3 linked regions of the Homo sapiens genome follow. The protein of the gene in region 3 purifies or fractionates together with the protein of the main gene of each other region. This does not show direct contact. Each region holds a gene or a part of one and is shown on either strand. Other genes may lie near its edges.

What was found.
Region 1: the proteins of FKBP9 (region 3) and FN1 purify together in Homo sapiens (co-immunoprecipitation; 3 studies listed by BioGRID and IntAct, with this or other methods). This does not show direct contact.
Region 2: the proteins of FKBP9 (region 3) and RAVER1 purify together in Homo sapiens (co-immunoprecipitation; 3 studies listed by BioGRID and IntAct, with this or other methods). This does not show direct contact.

Annotation. Positions count from the first base shown.
Region 1 is NC_000002.12:215,373,474-215,377,128, reverse strand, and holds part of FN1 (fibronectin isoform 1 precursor), read left to right. Parts: intron 1-454; coding exon 455-631; intron 632-1,410; coding exon 1,411-1,500; intron 1,501-1,735; coding exon 1,736-1,915; intron 1,916-3,655. UniProt on the Homo sapiens protein: Fibronectins bind cell surfaces and various compounds including collagen, fibrin, heparin, DNA, and actin. Fibronectins are involved in cell adhesion, cell motility, opsonization, wound healing, and maintenance of cell shape.
Region 2 is NC_000019.10:10,326,961-10,330,615, forward strand, and holds part of RAVER1 (ribonucleoprotein PTB-binding 1), read right to left. Parts: intron 3,567-3,655; coding exon 3,500-3,566; intron 2,152-3,499; coding exon 1,682-2,151; intron 1-1,681. UniProt on the Homo sapiens protein: Cooperates with PTBP1 to modulate regulated alternative splicing events. Promotes exon skipping. Cooperates with PTBP1 to modulate switching between mutually exclusive exons during maturation of the TPM1 pre-mRNA.
Region 3 is NC_000007.14:33,002,326-33,004,974, forward strand, and holds part of FKBP9 (peptidyl-prolyl cis-trans isomerase FKBP9 isoform 1 precursor), read left to right. Parts: intron 1-350; coding exon 351-514; intron 515-2,649. UniProt on the Homo sapiens protein: PPIases accelerate the folding of proteins during protein synthesis.

The sequences.
Region 1 (3,655 bases), on a different chromosome or scaffold from region 3:
ACTTGCCGTAATATTAGACACACACACACACACACACACACACACACTCTCTCTCTCTCTCACACACACATACACACACACACACACAAAATTGTTAGCTGGCCATGTTATTGTAACTCCTACCACACATATTTTTACATTATAATACATTAATAATTTTAATATTTATTGAAGTATTTGTAGATACTATAAAGCCAGCCCTGGGAACCACTGGTAGTATCTATAAAGCTTTTCAGCTCTTCAAAATAAAATGTCTGAGAGGTAGATATTTTCCTATTTTCTAATTACAGTTGACCTTTCTCTCTGAATGCCAAAGGAGATAATCTACACATTACTAGTTATATATTTCTTGAAATGGATGAATTTGATATATACCAAGGAAACGTTTTAAAATACCAAAACTTTACATGGATGAGCCAAGCAGGCACTAATCTCTAGCTATGCTCCTGTGCAGATGTCAGCCCACCAAGAAGGGCTCGTGTGACAGATGCTACTGAGACCACCATCACCATTAGCTGGAGAACCAAGACTGAGACGATCACTGGCTTCCAAGTTGATGCCGTTCCAGCCAATGGCCAGACTCCAATCCAGAGAACCATCAAGCCAGATGTCAGAAGCTACACCATCACAGGTCAGGGAACTCATTGCACTAACCACATTTGTTAACAAATACCCACAATGTAAACGGGCTTATTAACTGTTCTACGACTGACACTGATAAAATTTATTTTCAGTGTTATCATCATAACCCAGTTTTAGAACGTTATTTTCATGCTATGATCAGAAATAGTTTTGTCCTTTGAATGCCTGATTTTGTGTAATATTTGTCATGGAAATTGCGTAAGTGTCAATCAACAAGTTTGATCTTCCATCATTGTGCCCTTTCTTATTTAAAAAATTGTAACATAAGGTTTAAAACTAAAAGAAATAAAAAACAGTGATGTATAGATCTTAGCATTAAAAAGCATAGTTAATATAAAAGTAAACAATACCACTTAATAAAGGCCAAAATTGTAACCGAAGAATATTCAATATCTGAGGTCTTTTTTAGCTTTTTAAAATTGTGATTCCAAGGCTCAACTATTGACCATCTGATTACGGTAAAGAGAAAACCTCAATAAGTGGCTGACCCCCATTCTGCAAGAGGGCCTCTTCCAACATAGCATTTTTGCATTCCAGAATTTACTTTACCAGTGTCCTTGTCTGTATCAGTGATTCACTTTCGAGATATGTTTCTTGTTAACAGTTAACATCCATAGCATGCTCTACTTTACTGTTCAAATGTGGACCACTTTGGTAGTCTATATAAATATGGGATGATAGAAGAACCCAGAAAAATTGCAGGCTAGCTTGAGAATTCTCCTAGTAAAAAGCAAGAACTGTTAAAAATCATCTCTTCTCAAATCCCAGGTTTACAACCAGGCACTGACTACAAGATCTACCTGTACACCTTGAATGACAATGCTCGGAGCTCCCCTGTGGTCATCGACGCCTCCACTGGTAACTATACCTTCTACTGAGGAAATGCCATTGACTTGTATGCAATCAGTTTCATGAACTCAAAAAACAAATGTGAGGCGTATATTTTTGTATTATAGATTCCAGAGAATCTTGTTTCCGGTTTACAGTATTCTCAGATTCTTTTAAGTGTGTTTAGAACGGCTCGGGAGAAAAGTGTGGGAGTAATTTTCTTGGTTATTTGCCTTCTTAGAGACTTAATTTTGTTTTCTTTCAGCCATTGATGCACCATCCAACCTGCGTTTCCTGGCCACCACACCCAATTCCTTGCTGGTATCATGGCAGCCGCCACGTGCCAGGATTACCGGCTACATCATCAAGTATGAGAAGCCTGGGTCTCCTCCCAGAGAAGTGGTCCCTCGGCCCCGCCCTGGTGTCACAGAGGCTACTATTACTGGTATTGCTGCTTCCATGCTGTCATTTTCCTTCTTACTACCTAGGACACATGAAGTCCTTAGCAAACTCCCACAGCGTCTTTGATACTGTGTCATGAGAATGCGAAACTCTGTTCCTGATAACCTCAAAAAGCATTCTCTGTGTAGGAGTGGTAGAGCCTAATACATCCCAAAAGGCATGAGTGAAGGAAAATGCAATTTCAAGACTGTACTAATGGCATGACTAGACTCATGTTTTCCTTTCGCTGCAAGTTTGCCAGATACCTGTCAATTCAGTCCTGGAGAAAGATATTTTTCAAAGCATACTAGCTGATTGTGATTCTGTCATTACACTCAGCTCTCTATAGATATGGCAATCTTGCAGGACTTGCCAGTGCACCACCTGCCATTGACCTTGTTGACCACTATCACAGGATAGGTCTTGAGGCAGAGCAGTCCCAACCACCCACATTGGAAGAATGCCTGGAATGGGGAATAAGAGTTGTCTACCTTGGTGGGAAAGACTATAAGCCTCTAGTATTATTTTTGCCCAAGAGATGAAATATTTAAACTATCTGTATTAGTCTGTTTTCATACTGCTATAAAGAGGTTTAATTGACTCACAGTTCCGCATGGCTGGGGAGGCCTCAGAAAATGTACAATCATGGTGGAAGGAAAAGCAGGCATGTCTTACATGGCAGCAGGAGAGAGAAGCACACAGGAGGAACTTCCAGATACTTACAAAACTATCAGATCTTGTGAGAACTCACTATCATGAGAACAGCCTGGGGGAACCACCCCATGATCCAATCACCTCCTCTCCTCAATACATGGGGATTACAATTCCAGATGAGATTTGGATGCAGACACAGAGCCAAACCATATCAGTCTGTATAGAGTATCACCTGGACTTTAAAATTCCCACAGAACATACAGACATTAGAAGGAGACACTGGCTTTTTAGAATTGGGGGGAACAGGAAAATAGAAGCAGACATGAGAGGAATTGAACTAGACACTTCCCACAGAGGCTGCACAAACACTGGCCAATCTCTCCTACCCTTCACTTGCCTTTAGTTTCACTTTTCATTGATCTGCCACTGAGGACTGCTTGGTTATTAGGCCTAAGTAGATTCATGTATATAATCTGCAGGACTCTCTTTCAAATTTATATTCCAGTGGTGGTATATGATGCTGATAGATTTTCTTAAATTCAAAAAGGCAAATAAGACCACGTTAAAAGAATACCCTGGAAAGGCCAGGCGCGGTGGCTCACGCCTGTAATCCCAGCACTTTGGGAGGCCGAGGCAGGCAGATCACAAGGTCAGGAGATCGAGACCATCCTGGCTAACACGGTGAAACCCCATCTCTACTAAAAATACAAAAACAAAATTAGCCAGGCGTGGTGATGGGTGCCTGTAGTCCCAGCTACTCGGGTGGCTGAGGCAGGAGAATGGCTGAACCTGGGAAGCGGAGCTTGCAGTGAGCCGAGATAGCACCACTGCACTCCAGCCTGGGTGACAGAGCCAGACTCCATCTCAAAAAAAAAAAAAAAAAAAAAAAAAAGAATACCCTGGAAAAGTTAGCCAAAAAATGTCTATTCAGGCGTCAGATATGATAGTAAGATAATTAGTTTGCGATGCGGACTTTATATGCAGGATATTTGGGTGTTTATGGAGGAAAAGTGAAGTCGATTTTACCTTCAAGAGGCCAACAGCCAGCTGGAGAGGAAGTGCCTGCTCCCAGTAGCGTCTGCTGGTGAGA
Region 2 (3,655 bases), on a different chromosome or scaffold from region 3:
GGTTTCACCATGTTGGCCAGGCTGGTCTTGAACTCTTGACCTCAAGTGATCCACCTGCCTCGGCCTCTCAAAGTGCTGGGATTACATGCATGAGCCACCTCACCCAGCCTGTTTCTTGTTTTAAATATAGAGATGGTGTCCCACTATCTTGCCCAGGCTAGTCTTGAACTCCTGGTCTCGAGTGATCCTCCTGCCTCTGCCTCCCAACAGACACCTAGTTTAAATGGGGCACCAATACCCCACTTACACGAGAGGGACCCACTCAAGCCCACAGAGCTGGGGGTCCGAGCCCAGGACTGTCTCTCTGTTTTTGAGATAAGGGTCTAGCTCTGTTGCTCAGGCTGTAGTGTCATGGTGCTGTGGTGCGATCATGGCTCACTGCAGCCTCGGACTCCCAGAATCAGGCAATCCTCCCACCTCAGCCTCCTGAGTAGCTGGGACTACAGGCACACCATCATACCTATCTAATTTTTGTATAGAGAGGATTTCACCATATTGCCCAGGCTGGTCTCGAACTCCTGGGCTCGAGGGATCCGCCCGCCTCAGCCTCCCAAAGTGTTAGGGTTACAGGTGTGAGTCACTGCACCTGGCCAGGCCTACCCCTTTTAAGCCTCTGCACTGGCCTCCGCTCACTGGCCCAAGCTCTGGAGCTAGGCTGCGGTGTTCTGATCCCAGCTCTGCCAGACCCTGGCTGTTTAACTCTAGGCAAGTTACTTGACCCCTCTGTGCCTTGGTATCCTCACCTGAAAATGGGAGTGATACCTGCCTCTCAGGGTTGCTACAGGATGAAGCAACTGAAGGTTACGTACTCAGAGTCCACAGCGAGTGCTGGGGGAATGTCCCCTTTGGGATCTCTGGGGATCAAGACCTTCTGGGGGCTCTTAGAGAGTGAGTCTGGCCTGTTCTCGCCCCACTGCACCTGTTACAGGGCGAGGCACACACACAGAAGTGCCTGGCATGTGTGGCTTGAATGAACAAGGGACTGTTTTGCCAACCCATTGTGCAAGTATTGAGTCCCTGCTTATGGAGGAGGGAAACTGCAGATCAGAGAGCCAGTGACTGGCCCGAGCTCGAGGGCGGGGCTGGGATCTGGCAAAGCCTCAGTCTCTGACCTCAAGGCTCAAATAGACTGTGGGCTCCTCTGCAGCCTCCTCAATGCCTGGTCCAGGTCTGGGACCCCATGGGAGGTTTGACGAGGGTACCAGCGAATGAGGAGGTGAGTGGTGAGCAAGCCTCGAGATCCATAGTTACAAGAGTGGCCTTGCATGCATCTGATAGAGGGACAGTGAGGCCTGAGGCTGCAGAGGGATTCAAATCCCCTGGCCAGGTGTGGTGGCTCACGCATGTAATCCCAGCACTTTGGGAGGATCACCTGAGGCCAGGAGTTCAAGACTATCCTGGCCAACATGGCAAAACCCCATCTCTACTAAAAATATAAAAATTATCCAGGCATGGGGGCGGGGCGCCTATAATCCCAGCTACTCTGGAGGTTAAGGCAAGAGAATTGCTTGAACCAAAGAGGCGGAGGTTGCAGTGAACTGAGATTGTATCACTGCACTCCAGCATGGGTGACAAAGTGAGACTGTCTCAAAAAAAAAAAAGAAAAGGCAGATGACTCCAAAGACTCTCTCAGGTGCTCCGGGCCTGGCACCTGCTCCCCAATGCTCTCCACAGGGCTCACCTGGCAGAAGGTGGGGCTGTGGACAGCTGACAGCGCCCGGCACAGAGCGTCCACATCGTTGAAGCCAGGTGGCAGGCGGTCCACACAGAGGCAGCGGGAGTGGAGAAGGGCAGGCGTCAGTTGCCCGGCATCCGTCCAGTGCACGTAGAGGGTGCGTGGTCCCAGCGGCTTGCCCAGCAGGTCCGACTTGGCACGGGCAGCCGAGTCCTTCTTCATGTACTCAGCAAAGCCATAGCCCTTGGATTGGCCAGTGCGCTCACTGTAGACCAGGAAGCAGCGCTCCAGGCTGCCGAAGGGCCGCACCAGCTCCTCGAACTGCTGCTGTGTGAGGCTGGGGGGCAGGTTGGCCACACACAGCAGGGCATCCGTGGGCTGCAGCTGCACCGACAGTTCACGCTCCCGCAGGCGGCTCTGGTGGAAAGCATTGATTGCGGCCTCGGCCTGCTCCCCATTCAGCAGGGTCACGAAGGCTGCGGTGGGAGGAGGGCAGTGCGAGGTCAGCCGGGCCCTGAGGGCCTGCCCCTCCACCCCGCCACCCTGCAAACCAGGTGGGACCTCCAAATGCTGGGCATCTCAGGTGCCTGCTGATCTGAGCAGTTGCCAGCCTTGGCGACTCACACAGGCGAGAGCGCCTGCCATTGACTCTAGGCTCCACGAAGCCCACTCCCTCTCCCAGCCCTGCGTCCACCTGCACCCACAGCAGCGCTCACCAACTGTGGGCCTGGCTCTGTCCTAAGAACGCTGTGGGTCACTCGGGTGATACCAAGGGCAGTGGTTAAGCCCATGCTCACTGGGGCCCAGATTTAAGCCCCAAGCCCCAGGTGGCTTTGGGGGTATCAGTTTCCTCATCTCTCAAATGGATATAACTTAATCATCACAATCACCATTTTGCCAGAGAGGAAACGGGCCCAGAGCAGCACCCCTGTGCCCCGAGTAGGGGAGCCTGGACTTGAACCCAGGCAGCCGGACTCCAGAGGCCCACTCTACACACTGCCCACCCCTGCCACCTTTCCAGGCCACCAGTGCCCCTGAACCCTGCTGCCACGTGCTGCCCCAGATTTGCGATCCACCCAGCGGCCGCAGGAAGCTTTGTTCAAAACGATCACGCCACATCCATCTTGTGGCTTCTAGCTGCAGGGTGCAGTGCAGCCTGTGCGGGCTCGCTGACCTCCCCTCCCATCTCACCGCTGCCACCCGGACCACGCCAGGCACACTCCAGAGGGGCCTTTGCAGCTGCTGTTTCTTGAGCATGGAACACTGAGCCCCACCTCCTCACCTGGTTAACCTGGACCCACCCAGGTAGAAACCCTGTCTCTACTAAAAATACAAAAATTAGCCGGGCATGGTGGCACATGCCTGTAATCCCAGCTACTCGGGAGGCTGAAGCAGGGGAATGGGCTGAACCCAGGAGGCGGAGGTTGCAGCGAGCCGAGCTCGCGCCACTGCACTCCAGCCTGGCGACAGAGCAAGACTCCATCTCAAAAAAAAAAAAAAAAAGACCACACAAGCAGGGGTGACTGGCTGAGTGAGGCAAGAGGGGTAAGAAGAGAATGAACCCACGGCCAAACGTTGTCAAGAATTAGCTCAATGCCAAGCGAGTGGAGTAGGAAGAGAATCAGCCCGATGCCCAGTGTTCTCCAAGGAGAACATGAAGGCTGTCCCAAGATGACAGGATGACAGGCAGATTGGGGCAACCTGCCATGTTGGCCTGGGGGGCAATACTGGGCCTGAAGCTCAGAGCAGCAGACAGTGAGCCAGGCCCTCCCATCTTCAGGGATGGTCACTCCCTGCCCTGGCCCGCCCCATGGCCCCACAAACCTGTCCCTTTGTATTTGTCCACAAAACAGTATTTGAGCTCATAGTCACTGAGCAGGTCATGTACTTCCTGTGGAGATACAAGACAAAAGACAGGGAGTTACTGGAGATGGAAGGGGGCAACCCAGTGCCGCTTCATAGCTGCCACCAGCTATGAAG
Region 3 (2,649 bases):
TTTCACCATGTTGGCCAGGCTGGTCTTGAACTCCTAATCTCAAGTGATCCGCCCGAGTCGGCCTCCCAAAGTGCTGGAATTATAGGCGTGAGCCACCATGCCTGGCCTCTATTCTATTCCTTAATTTAAAAAATAACTAAACGCTGGTCACCACCCTCTAAACTGATTTCGTGAGTCATTAACGGGCCACTGCCTACAGTGAGAAAGTGACTAGCCTCTGCTCCGCTTTCTTGCTTTGGTCAGAAGTCCCACTCTGAGTGAGGCTGCTGGAGGTTGGGGTGGGTGCTGGTTGTTGGGCTTGACTGCTGCCTGCCGGCTGACACCGCCTCCCGCTCCTGTCACCTGGACAGATGGAGAAGTGCCCGGCAGTGCCGTATTAGTGTTTGACATTGAGCTGCTGGAGCTGGTGGCTGGCCTTCCTGAGGGGTACATGTTCATATGGAATGGTGAGGTGTCACCCAACCTCTTTGAAGAAATTGACAAGGATGGCAACGGAGAAGTCCTCCTGGAAGAGGTAACTAACTGGCCTCTGTAGGAAGGTGGGACCGAAGAGCTCAGGGAGCCTGGTAAGGCCGTGGGGCCGGTTCTGAAGGTAAGGACTTCTAAGGGTGAGGCCAGCTGGCTGGAGGGCTTGTGAGATGACCAGCACACTTGTGTGCCAAGCGCTTTTACACACACCCTCTCGATGGAAGCTCACCATTCCTCTCTGAAGAAACCGATTCCCTAAGAGGTGTAGGGCATGATTCCAGGGCATACAGTCTGCATTTAGTTCTCGTTACTGGGTGCTCAATGCCTGCCTGTATGTGCTGAGTGTATTCTCTGATTTGGCCCTCACAGCAGCTGTTTTTTAGAAGAAACTGCACAGAGAAGGTAAATGACTTGTCCAAGGTCACACATCTACTCAGTTGTTTGAGCCAGGACCACACTCCTCTTTGTGAAGCTGGGCAATAGAACCATCTGTTCTGTCCCACCCCTGGGGAATTCCAGCTCCCTGCCTCTTCCACATCTGCTATTGAAGCACATCCTCCAGCCTTTTCCTCTCTCTCTCCACATCATCAGCCCTTCTGGATCTTTCTCATTTGCATACAAATGTGCTATTATTTTCCCTTCCCTGGATGTGTCTGTTTCTTTCATTGCTTTCCTTCCTTTACAGCAAAAACTTCAAAAGAATTGTGTGTCCTTTCTGCCTCCAATTCCTCTCCTCCCATTCTCTCCTAAACCCACTCCTTTCTGGCATTTGTCCCTCTATGCCTCTGAGCCTGACCTTGCCAGGGTGGCCAATGTCTTCCGTATCGCGGAATCCAGTGGTCAGCTCTTACGCTCCTCTTAACTTCAACACAGCTGATTCCCCTACAGGACGCATCTTTCTCTGGCTTCCAGGACACCACACTTCATGGTGTTCCTTCTACCTCCCTGGTACGTCCCTCTCAGGCCTCTTGTCCCTGATCGCTTCATGTTGGAGTACCCCGGGCTAAGTCTTGACCTTTGTTCTTTTCTCTGTCTTTAAGTCACTCGCTCAGTGGTCTTATCGGGTCCATATCCTGATGGCGTCTGGATTTGTAGCTCCAGTCCAGTCTTCTCTCTCCACTTCACACTCATGTGTTCAGCTGCCTGCTTGATGTCCTCATTTATGGAACCCCTGCTATCCACCCGCACACCCCGCTTGGGGCCTGCTTTACCCAAAGCCTTTCCCGTCGCAGTCAGTGGCATCACTGGCCTCCAGTGGCTCAGGCGAGAGCACTCGGTGATCTCTGACTCCTCTCTTTCTCTCGTAGGCCGTAATGGTCCTCAGGAAATCATTCCAGCTCTACCTTGAGAGCACACACAGAACCTGACGCTTCTTACCACCCCCACCCTGTAGCATCTTAGCCCGGGGCCTGTCATCTCTTTCCCGGGTCACACACAGCAGTGGTGTTCATGAAGCTCCTCCTGCCCTCACAGTGGCTGTTCTCACACAGAAGCTGGGTCAGACCCGCAGAGGCCCCTGTCTACAGGGCCTCACAGTGGCCTGTGAAGACCCTGCACTTTCTGCTCGCTGTAACCTCTTTGCCGGCTGTCTCCCTCTGCCCACTTTACCCGGCCACACCTGCCCCCAGTGCTGTCTGTGACCACCCAGGCATGCGTCCACCTTGAGCCCTGGCACCGGCTGCCCTCTCTGCTCAGGAGACATCTACCCCAGATAACTTGTTCGGTCCTTTCCTTCTCATCTTTCAAGACTTTGCACAAATCTTCCCTTCTCCTTAAAGTTTTATCCTGACCACTGAATTCAACACTTCATCCCTTTCTCCCTTCCTTACTGAGCTCCGCTTTTTGATTTTTTTCTGGAGCATTTCACTTTGTAACTTAATGTGTAATTTACCTATTTTTATGTTCATGTCTAATTGTCTGTTTCCACTAGAATGCAAGCATCACAGGGGCAGGGTGTTTGTGTATTGATGTATTTCAAGATCTAGAACAGTGTGCTCAGCACATAGTAGACCATATGTTTTGATCATATGAATGAATGCCTGCATCCAAGAATGTTCTTACAGTCTTGGGTGGTCTTGGGGGTCAGCCTTTGGTGGGGAACCAACTTGGGAGAAGGAATAGCTCTGACGGCTGCTGGGTATTGGCTACCTGAATAATAAGGGCTCTTGGAGTCATTTAGCA